Linked DNA regions of Homo sapiens. The protein of the gene in region 2 interacts with the protein of the main gene of each other region in a biochemical or structural test. Each region holds a gene or a part of one and is shown on either strand. Other genes may lie near its edges.

What was found.
Region 1: the proteins of CCND2 (region 2) and NPDC1 form a complex in vitro, tested with the Homo sapiens proteins (one study listed by BioGRID).

The regions. Positions count from the first base shown.
Region 1 is NC_000009.12:137,038,756-137,043,272, forward strand, and holds the end of NPDC1 (neural proliferation differentiation and control protein 1 precursor), read right to left. Parts: intron 4,319-4,517; coding exon 4,172-4,318; intron 2,433-4,171; coding exon 2,307-2,432; intron 2,230-2,306; coding exon 2,059-2,229; intron 1,983-2,058; coding exon 1,916-1,982; intron 1,844-1,915; coding exon 1,759-1,843; intron 1,682-1,758; coding exon 1,602-1,681; intron 1,313-1,601; coding exon 1,216-1,312; intron 1,110-1,215; coding exon 1,017-1,109; 3' UTR 708-1,016; downstream 1-707. UniProt on the Homo sapiens protein: Suppresses oncogenic transformation in neural and non-neural cells and down-regulates neural cell proliferation. Might be involved in transcriptional regulation.
Region 2 is NC_000012.12:4,287,081-4,290,882, forward strand, and holds part of CCND2 (G1/S-specific cyclin-D2), read left to right. Parts: intron 1-1,761; coding exon 1,762-1,910; intron 1,911-3,802. UniProt on the Homo sapiens protein: Regulatory component of the cyclin D2-CDK4 (DC) complex that phosphorylates and inhibits members of the retinoblastoma (RB) protein family including RB1 and regulates the cell-cycle during G(1)/S transition.

The DNA.
Region 1 (4,517 bases), on a different chromosome or scaffold from region 2:
GTCCCCAGCATCAGTGGGACAGAGAGTTTCAGCCCCCGCACGCTGACCTGGTACTGGCCTGATCTGGGCACTTTTGACCACATGATTCCCCTTCCTCCCTCGGGGCCTTCTTGCTCCAAATTTAGGAGTGGCCAAGTCCCAGCTCCAGGCGTCCAGGCCCCTCCCATCACACCCCTCACCTGGCCCCCTGGGTCCACCTGGCTCTGCATAGCTGGTATCACACAGGTACCTCTGCCTGCCATCCCTCCTCCGTGTGCTGCAGGGCCTGGCGGCCGTGGTCCCCATGAGAAACCCAGACTCAATGTCTGCATTGTTTTCCTTCTGCCTGGAGGTGGTGGGCACCCACATCCAGGTGCGTGTGGACTATCACCTGCTCCAGCCCTCTTTATCACACAGGATGGGGTCTTCCGGGCCGCAGAGCCAACCCTGGGCTGGCCCAGCCCTACACTACACCCTTCCCCTCTCCCACCTGCGTAGAAGGGTCTGCAGGGGTGAGGCCTGGCTGAGGAGGGTGGGGATGATCCCGTGGCCTCTCCTCCAGCTCCACGGGATGGGAAGGTCCTCCTAATGAGCGAACAGAAAGGCCTCCTCCCTCTGGGGGTGCAAGAGCAGACCCCAGGCCCCCCACTCAGGGGTCCGTCTACCAGGGCCCCAAATGGGAGATGAGGCGGTGGAAGATTAACCCAAGCTGGCAACACAGGCAGAAGCCGCAGGTCTGAAATGGACTTTAATTGGCTTTTGTCTCTAGAATTACCCACCCGTTCCTGCGCTCTACGGTTCTCCATGCCCCCTCCAGTTTGGGGGTCTAAACCGAACAGGAGAGGTGCAGGGGACCAGGAGGTGTCCTGGCACAAAGGTTCGGGGGTCTCCCTGGCAAGGGGTCCCAGGGCCTGGAGCCCGAGGCCCAGCCAAAAGCACACAGCATCAAAACATGTTTTTAGTGGGAAGCTCCAGGCCCTGCCCCTCCCCGGGGGCCTCGAGGTCGGGGAGCAGGTGGGCGTCTGTCTGCCTCCAGGTCATGGCAGTGCAGGCGGTGAGCTGGGGGCCGGCAGGGGCGCGGACAGTGCGGCGTGGTCGAACAGAGGGTTGCGCACCTCCATTTCCCCGGTCTGCGAATGTGGGTGTCAGGCTGGGCAGTGGGTGGGCTGGGGGGATACTTGCTGGGAGGGAACCCCAGGAGATGGTTCGCCCCTCCCTGCACCCTGAGGCACTCACCGGGGCCAGGCCCGGGCACTCGTACACCGTGAAGTCTCCGTCCTCATTCTCCTCATCCGAGGAGGCCGTGTCCAGCTCCTTGGGTGGCTCTTTATGCCTGGGTGGGGGGGGATCGCTGGGTCCTCCCCATGCCCTCGAGGTGCCAGTGGCCCAGTCTGGAAGTGGGCACTCAGCCCACCTCAGCCCTGGGGTGGCAGGGGAGCACAGCCCAGGGTGAAGTTGGCCAGGGGAGGTGAGGGTGCAGGGCGGCGGGGGAGGTGAAGGTTAGCGTGCAGGTGAGGGTGGCAGGGCCTGGGGTAAAGTTGGCCAGGGGAGGTGGAAATGGAGGTGGAGGTGGGGATGGGGGGTGGGTGGGTGGGGGTGGCAGTGCCGGGGCGGCCACTCACCGCTCCAGGCACAGCATCTGTTGCCGTTGGTGCTGGTAGTGGTACATCTCCGCGCTCTGTGCCAGCCGCTGGTCCCCAGGCTGTGGGAAGGAGGAGGCGAGGGTCAGTTGGCGGCCAGAGTTGGGCGGGAGCCTCAGGGCTGAAGGGGGCCACACACCGAGATCCGGGGAGCTGCAGGTGAGCCAGGGGCCTTCGCAGTGGCGTAGTCGGCCTTCTGAGTCAGGCGGATCTCACGCTGCAGCCTGTGGGGAGTGGGGCCTGAGACCTCTGAGCGTGTGGCACCCTCCCTGCCCTGCCCGCGGCCACTGGCTCACCTGCACCAGCAGAGGGAGGCTACGGAGAGGGCGGCTGCACCGGCCACACAGAACGCCAGGATCAGCACTGCAGGAGGGGGCGTGTGAGGGCGGCCTTCTGCAGGGCGCCCTGCTGCCCCTGCCCACCCCCGACCAAGACCTACCAAGGGCGAGGCCGTCGCCTTGCCCTCCCCGGGGCTCCAGGGGCGACATGTGCACCGGGTCGGATGACACAGGGGAGCCCAGGGAGGTGTGGGGCGTGGGCGTGGGGGTTCCTGGAGTGGAGGGGAGGCCCAGCTCCAGCCCCTGCCCCCGTGCCGAGAAGCCCAGGGTGGCTGCGAGAGAGGACAGGTTAGAATGAGAGCACTGGGCTAGGGACAGGGCCGTGGGGCAGGGGAAGCGGGGGTCTCACCAGGCTCCGGGAGCCGCTGTCGGTCCTTGGGTAGGGGCGGAGTTGAGTGTCCAGACTCCTTCCGGGCAAGCTCCTGGGCCAGGAAGTCAATCTCATCTTCCAGTCTGGGCTGGGGCCGGCCCCCGCCTGGGGAGGGTGAGGGGCCATCAGGTGGAGGGGTCCGTCCAGGAGGTAGCCCCAGGCCCGGCCTCCCCGCTTCTGGCAGGTTCCTCCCAGGAGCCTGAGGACTGGGTACACGCCTGGAGGCCCTCTCCCTCCCAGATTGCCATGGTGACAGCGCGGGCGCTTCCTGTGAGGGGCAGTGCTTCCCGGAAAGTGGAGGCAGGGCAAGGGAGGAGGCGCTAGGGAAACGTCCAAAGACCGGGCACGGGGAGGAAGGAGTGGGGTCTCTCGCCCCAACCCATGTCCATAAAGGGCTGGCCAGCACAGCCCCTTCTGCTTCCCCACCTCCAAGCACCTTCTCGGGTAGAGGGGCAGGGACTCCCCAAGGAGTGGGGGGAAGCCGAAGGAAGCCAAGCACCCGGGACCCCTCCCCAGGTCATTGGGAGAACGGGGGCAGCTGTCAGGGGTGGGGCTGGTGGCAGGGCTCCACCGGTACCCACTGTGGGCTGCACAGTCTGGGTGGACGCTCCCAGGTTGGCAGGAGGTGCATCCACACAGACCCTTACAGCCACTTCTCGGTGCTCCTCTCAACACCTCCTCCAGGAAGCCGCTGCTGCTCCCACCCCCAGCACCTCTGAGCAAAGCCCTCACCACACCTGAAGTCACTCAGTGACTGGCCATCCCGACAGATGCGGCTCAGGCTGGCGAGCGGGGCATCCCCAGCACCCAGCCAGTGCTGGCACCCTTCAACATTTGCCAACAGGCGGACAGGACAGTGAGTGGTGGAAAAGAGCAAGCTGCCTGGGGACGGGGAAGTGGGGGCCTGGAGGGCTTCTGGGCAGACCCTGCAGAGCCCAGGCCCGGGGAGAATGGGCCCTTCCTCTCCCGTGGCCATCCCAGCATTTCACATCGTGCAGCCCTTCTCCTGGGAGGGCCTGACTGCCCCAGGCCTGGGCCCACCTCCATTTGGAAAGGATGGGAGGCTTCGTGGAGAGTGAATGAGGATCTCCCAGGCCTTGGACCCAACACCCCACAAGGTCCAGGGGCCCCAAGACCACCTGGCACAGGCCTGGGCATTGAGGCTGCAGGCTGCTGCTTTTTTTTTTTTGAGGCGGAGTCTCGCTCTGCCGCCCAGGCTGGAGTGCAGTGGCGCGATCTCGGCTCACTGCAAGCTCTGCCTCCCGGGTTCACGCCATTCTCCTGCCTTAGCTTCCCGAGTAGCTGGGACTACAGGCGCCCGCCGCCACGCCCGGCTAATTTTGTTTTTGTATTTTTAGTACAGATGGGGTTTCACCGTGTTAGCCAGGATGGTCTCGATCTCCTGACCTTATGATGTGCCCGCCTCGGCCTCCCAAAGTGCTGGGATTACAGGCGTGAGCCACTGCTCCCGGCCTTCTTTTTTTTTTTTTTTTTTTTTGAGACAGAGTCTCGCACTGTCGCCCAGGCTGGAGTGCAGTGGTGAATCGGCTCACTGCAAGCTCCGCCTCCCGGGTTAAAGCAATTCTCCTGCCTCAGCCTCCTGAGTAGCTGGGACTACAGGTGTGTGCCACCACACCCGGCTACTTTGTATTTTTAGTAGAGACGGGGTTTCACCATGTTGGCCAGGCTGGTCTTGAACTCCTGACCTCATGAGATCCAACAGCCTGGGCCTCCCACAGTGCTGGGATTACAGGCATGAGCCACCGCGCCCAGCCGGCCGCTTCTTACAGGGAGAGGTTCATGCAGGGACATCCCCCCATCGACTTCCCCCTTTGCTCTCGTACCTGGAGGCCGGCGCATCCTGGGCACACAGAGCCCTTGCTGGTCCTCCTGGAAGGGCTGAAGGCAGGGCCCACAGGCATGTGCACCAGGAGGACACCTTGCCCGCCTCTTCAGGGCACAGTCCAGGCTCCCGGGACAGGCGGCTACATCTGGGAAGGAAGCAGAAGGCAGGGCCGGCTCACGGCCCCGCAGGGCTCGGCCCCTGCACACGGCAGCGCTGCCCCAGCCACCCGCCCCCGTCACCCCCCGAGCTGGCCGGGCCTGGTTCTGGCCATTGTTCTGGACATGCCCTTCCTCCCTGACGCCAGGGCTCAGAACCCGGAAGCGAACAGTCCTAGGACTTATCAG
Region 2 (3,802 bases):
CATGGCGACAGAGAAGGCGTAGGAGGGGCGGGTGGACAGCAGGCGTGGGCGCAGCACCATTATATACGTCCCTCAAGAGGTGGAGATGGTGAGAGGGCAATGGAGAAAAAGCCAAGGAGACAGGCAGATGGCCAGGTTTGCTCTGCGTTCATGATGGGAGGGGAGGGCTGTGCTTGGCTCAGGGATCCACGGTGTCTAACAATGCTGCTAACTTGATGCTGGGGCAATGGGCTGACCATTAAAAGAGCTGCTGTAGAAAGTGTGTTTGTAATAGAGTGTGTACAGGAGGAAGGGGAAATAGGAGAGGGGCTGGTTTTTGTAGATTTAACCTGATTGTTTTTGCTGTAAGTTGAAGGGTGACCCACGGTTCCCTGTATGCTGTGTCTCCTGCCCCCACGTGCCCCTTCCATGTCTACACACAGTAAGCTCACTAGAGCAATGCTAAAACGAGAAAGAGTACGCTTTGGAAGACTTGCTGCACTCCAGGACCGTCACTAGCGTGATGGCTGCAACTATACCCACCCTAATATCTGTCAACACGAGCAGGGGCAACTTAAACTCTCAAAAGTCTCAGGGTTCTCACCCATACCATTAGGGTGACGCTCGTGTGCATCTTCTGTGGCTGATGGGTAAATTAAACAGGACGTAATGTGTAGCGTACTGCATGTGGTGGTCATTGGTAGCTGTCAGCAGCTGTAACAGGAGAAGTTGGCTGTCTTTATTTCCCCTCGATGGACCAAGCAGCTGCTGGATCATGGCCACCCAGCCCCTCTGAAGGAGTGCTCGGAGGAACACAAGGGGGCTGGTCTTCCAAGAGGAGCCCTCTAGCATGGCAGTGGACGGGGTTCAAGCCCCTCTGATTTATTATCCTCATTCTGCACTTCCCTGTAGCAAGTCACATTTTTTTCTCTTAGCAATAAAATGGGGCCTTCAGTCTCATGAGTCATAACATCGAAACCGAGTCACCCATCTGATTCGGATGCAATGATTAATCTTCAGTGCTTAGTTAGAGCCCTATGTTAGGGTTAGAATCCTCTGCCCTAATGTTCTGAGGGTTCTTGCTGTTGGGCCAGAGGTTGGGAACTGGGTGGAACTCAGCCCCCACTCGCCCACTCCCTGCATTGCTGCTTCTCTCATTTCCTTTTTTAGATCAAACCTTTTTTTTTTTTTTTTGGGTGGGGGTCATATTAATCCTCAATGCCTGTCCAGAGACTATAACAAGATCCCATCTGAATTAGCATTATGCATAGATTTTGCCCGTTTCTCCCATCTCCTTGTACTTTCCCTCCTTCTCACATCTGGAGCCCCTGGTCTGTCCTGCTTGCATGGCCCATGGGGTACCTTGTCTGCACTGGTCTCAGGCATTCTCTGCTCTGTTCCCACCATCACCTCTAGAGGAGACTATGACTCGCTCACCTTGCTCCCCCCACCAGGGTCAAGAATGTTAACTCAGACATGCTTAATATGACTGGGATCTGGGGATTGGGGACCTTGAATCCTCTGTGCATTCATTGTGTGCGCTTAGATAAGCTGTCTTCCTTCCCTGCCTCAGTCTCCTTCGTTTAATCTGGAACAGCCATGGTGATGGCAAATAAACACAGGCTCCTTGTGAAAGAACTCGAGGGAGGACATGCCTGTAGGGCACGGGGTCACTCGCGCCGCTGACCTGCTGCCGTCCTGTTTCTGAGTCTCTGCAGTCTCGGGAGCTCCAGGATCCAAATTCGTTCTGTGCCCTGACCTTCTGCCTCTCATTCCTTGCAGACTTTAAGTTTGCCATGTACCCACCGTCGATGATCGCAACTGGAAGTGTGGGAGCAGCCATCTGTGGGCTCCAGCAGGATGAGGAAGTGAGCTCGCTCACTTGTGATGCCCTGACTGAGCTGCTGGCTAAGATCACCAACACAGACGTGGTAGGTGGCCACCACCTTCTTGGCTAAGTCCAGATGTCTCTTCTCAGCTCAGGGAAGGAGACGACGGATTTGATTATGTTGTGTCAGAGGTATTTTTCTGGTTTGTTTCCTAAGATCGACATCCAAGGGAGTGCAAAGTTCAGCAGGTGACACCCCCTCTTAAGGTTCTGAAAAGCTGTGCACGGGAAAATACGGAAGAAAACTCAGCAAGCAGATGAAGGGGGTGGGGGTGGGAGGGCTGTTTACCGATGTTCCTTTATGGCGTGGGCTTCTCAGTGGGTCTGAATTGTTGCTTCATTGCCATATTTGTACACGCTGCCAGGCTGCCTCTGCCCGGCAGCGAAGAGCTGCCGTGTCTGCTTTCACACGCTGAGGCTGTAAGGCGCACAGAGGAGAAAGGAGAGCCAGGACTCAGCTGCAGTGGATGGAGCAGACACACAAGAGGTGCCCCACTGTGAGAACGGTGTCCGTCCCTGGCAAACCTCTCGACCCCTCCCCGCTCTCTCTTCCCTTTTGTTCAATGCAGTAATGGATTACAAAGTGCTTTCAAAAGACAAAGTGCCATACAAACTCAAGAAACTATTATTAGCTACGGAGCTTCCCCATTCTGTGTGCCCTGTGGACGGCCCAGAGGCTGTTAACTTCCTGTTGCCAGAATTTGGAGCTCCTGAGAAGAAAGGTTTTGAGAGAGACCAGGGTCAAGTGAGCCTCTGAATTCAATCAGCAGGAAGCTGCAGTCCTAGCCCGTCCGAGACAGGATGGTGCCAAGAGGTCAGAGAGGCCATTCCTTCGTTTTCCACGGGCAGGACAGGGACTGAAGTAACCAGCCAGGAGCGGGGTGGGCAGTGGCTGAGCTGGGGCTAGAACCCCCAGGCTCCGACTGCCCCCTGGAAACTTCCCACTCCACCCTTGTTGCCGCTCCTGGGATCTTTTGGTTTGAAAAAAAACCCTGGGGTTTAAAGTCAACCTGAGAGAGGGGTGTTGGCCCTGAGCCCTCATGCATCACCATGGAGAGGCTGAAGAATGCTGGGCACTTCACGATGACACCCTCTGGATGGTCCGGGGGGATTCAGATGCCCTCTGCGGGCTTTTATTGAGTTAAGGGATCATGTGGTTTATAGGCCTATGGCTGAGGCCTGCACGAGGGATACGGGACAGGTTAAACCTCAGAGAGCCCACGGCTGCAGCTCGCCGGCCTCCTCGCCCGCCCACCTGGATTTTCCCTGGCATTTGTTCCCAGCTCAGAGAAATGGCGCAGGGAGATGCTGACGGAGCAAATCCGGGGTCCTCCTCTGAGATAGTTCGTAGATATGGTTTTAAAATGCGGGCTCCAAACATACGCTTTTTAAACGAGGACTCCAGAACACAGACTGAAAACCTCCCTCCAGTGCAGCATGAAGAATGCTTTTCTAATCCTCCAGAGGAAAATCGTGGACGGGACTTAACGTTTATAGAAATGGTACGCTTTCCTCCTTTTCTGAATGTCTCCAATTAAGGCTGCCTTACAAATAGGACTCTCAGCCAGTTTAAGACAAGCCCTTCCTCAATGCCTGGAGACAAAAATGTCAGTGACAGGAGTTGGAAGCGGCCACCCCCCTCCTCCTGCCCCCAGGCATTGTAACCTTTTCCCCCGATGTTGATAGACCTGCTCTGATGGGCTGACCACCCTACCGGCTCCAGCCTTTTCCCACCTCCCTTTGTCCCCCGTTACTGATCTCACATGGACAGTGGTGGAAATTTCCCTCCTGGGAGTTGCTGCTGAGTCTCTTGGCTTTTCGAGACCGCAGGCAAGTCAGTCCGTCATCTCATCTGGGGAAACTGTTTGCCTTTTTCTGATACTACGTAGCCAGTCCATTTAAGTCAGCTGGCCAACTCTGTTAAATGGATATGAA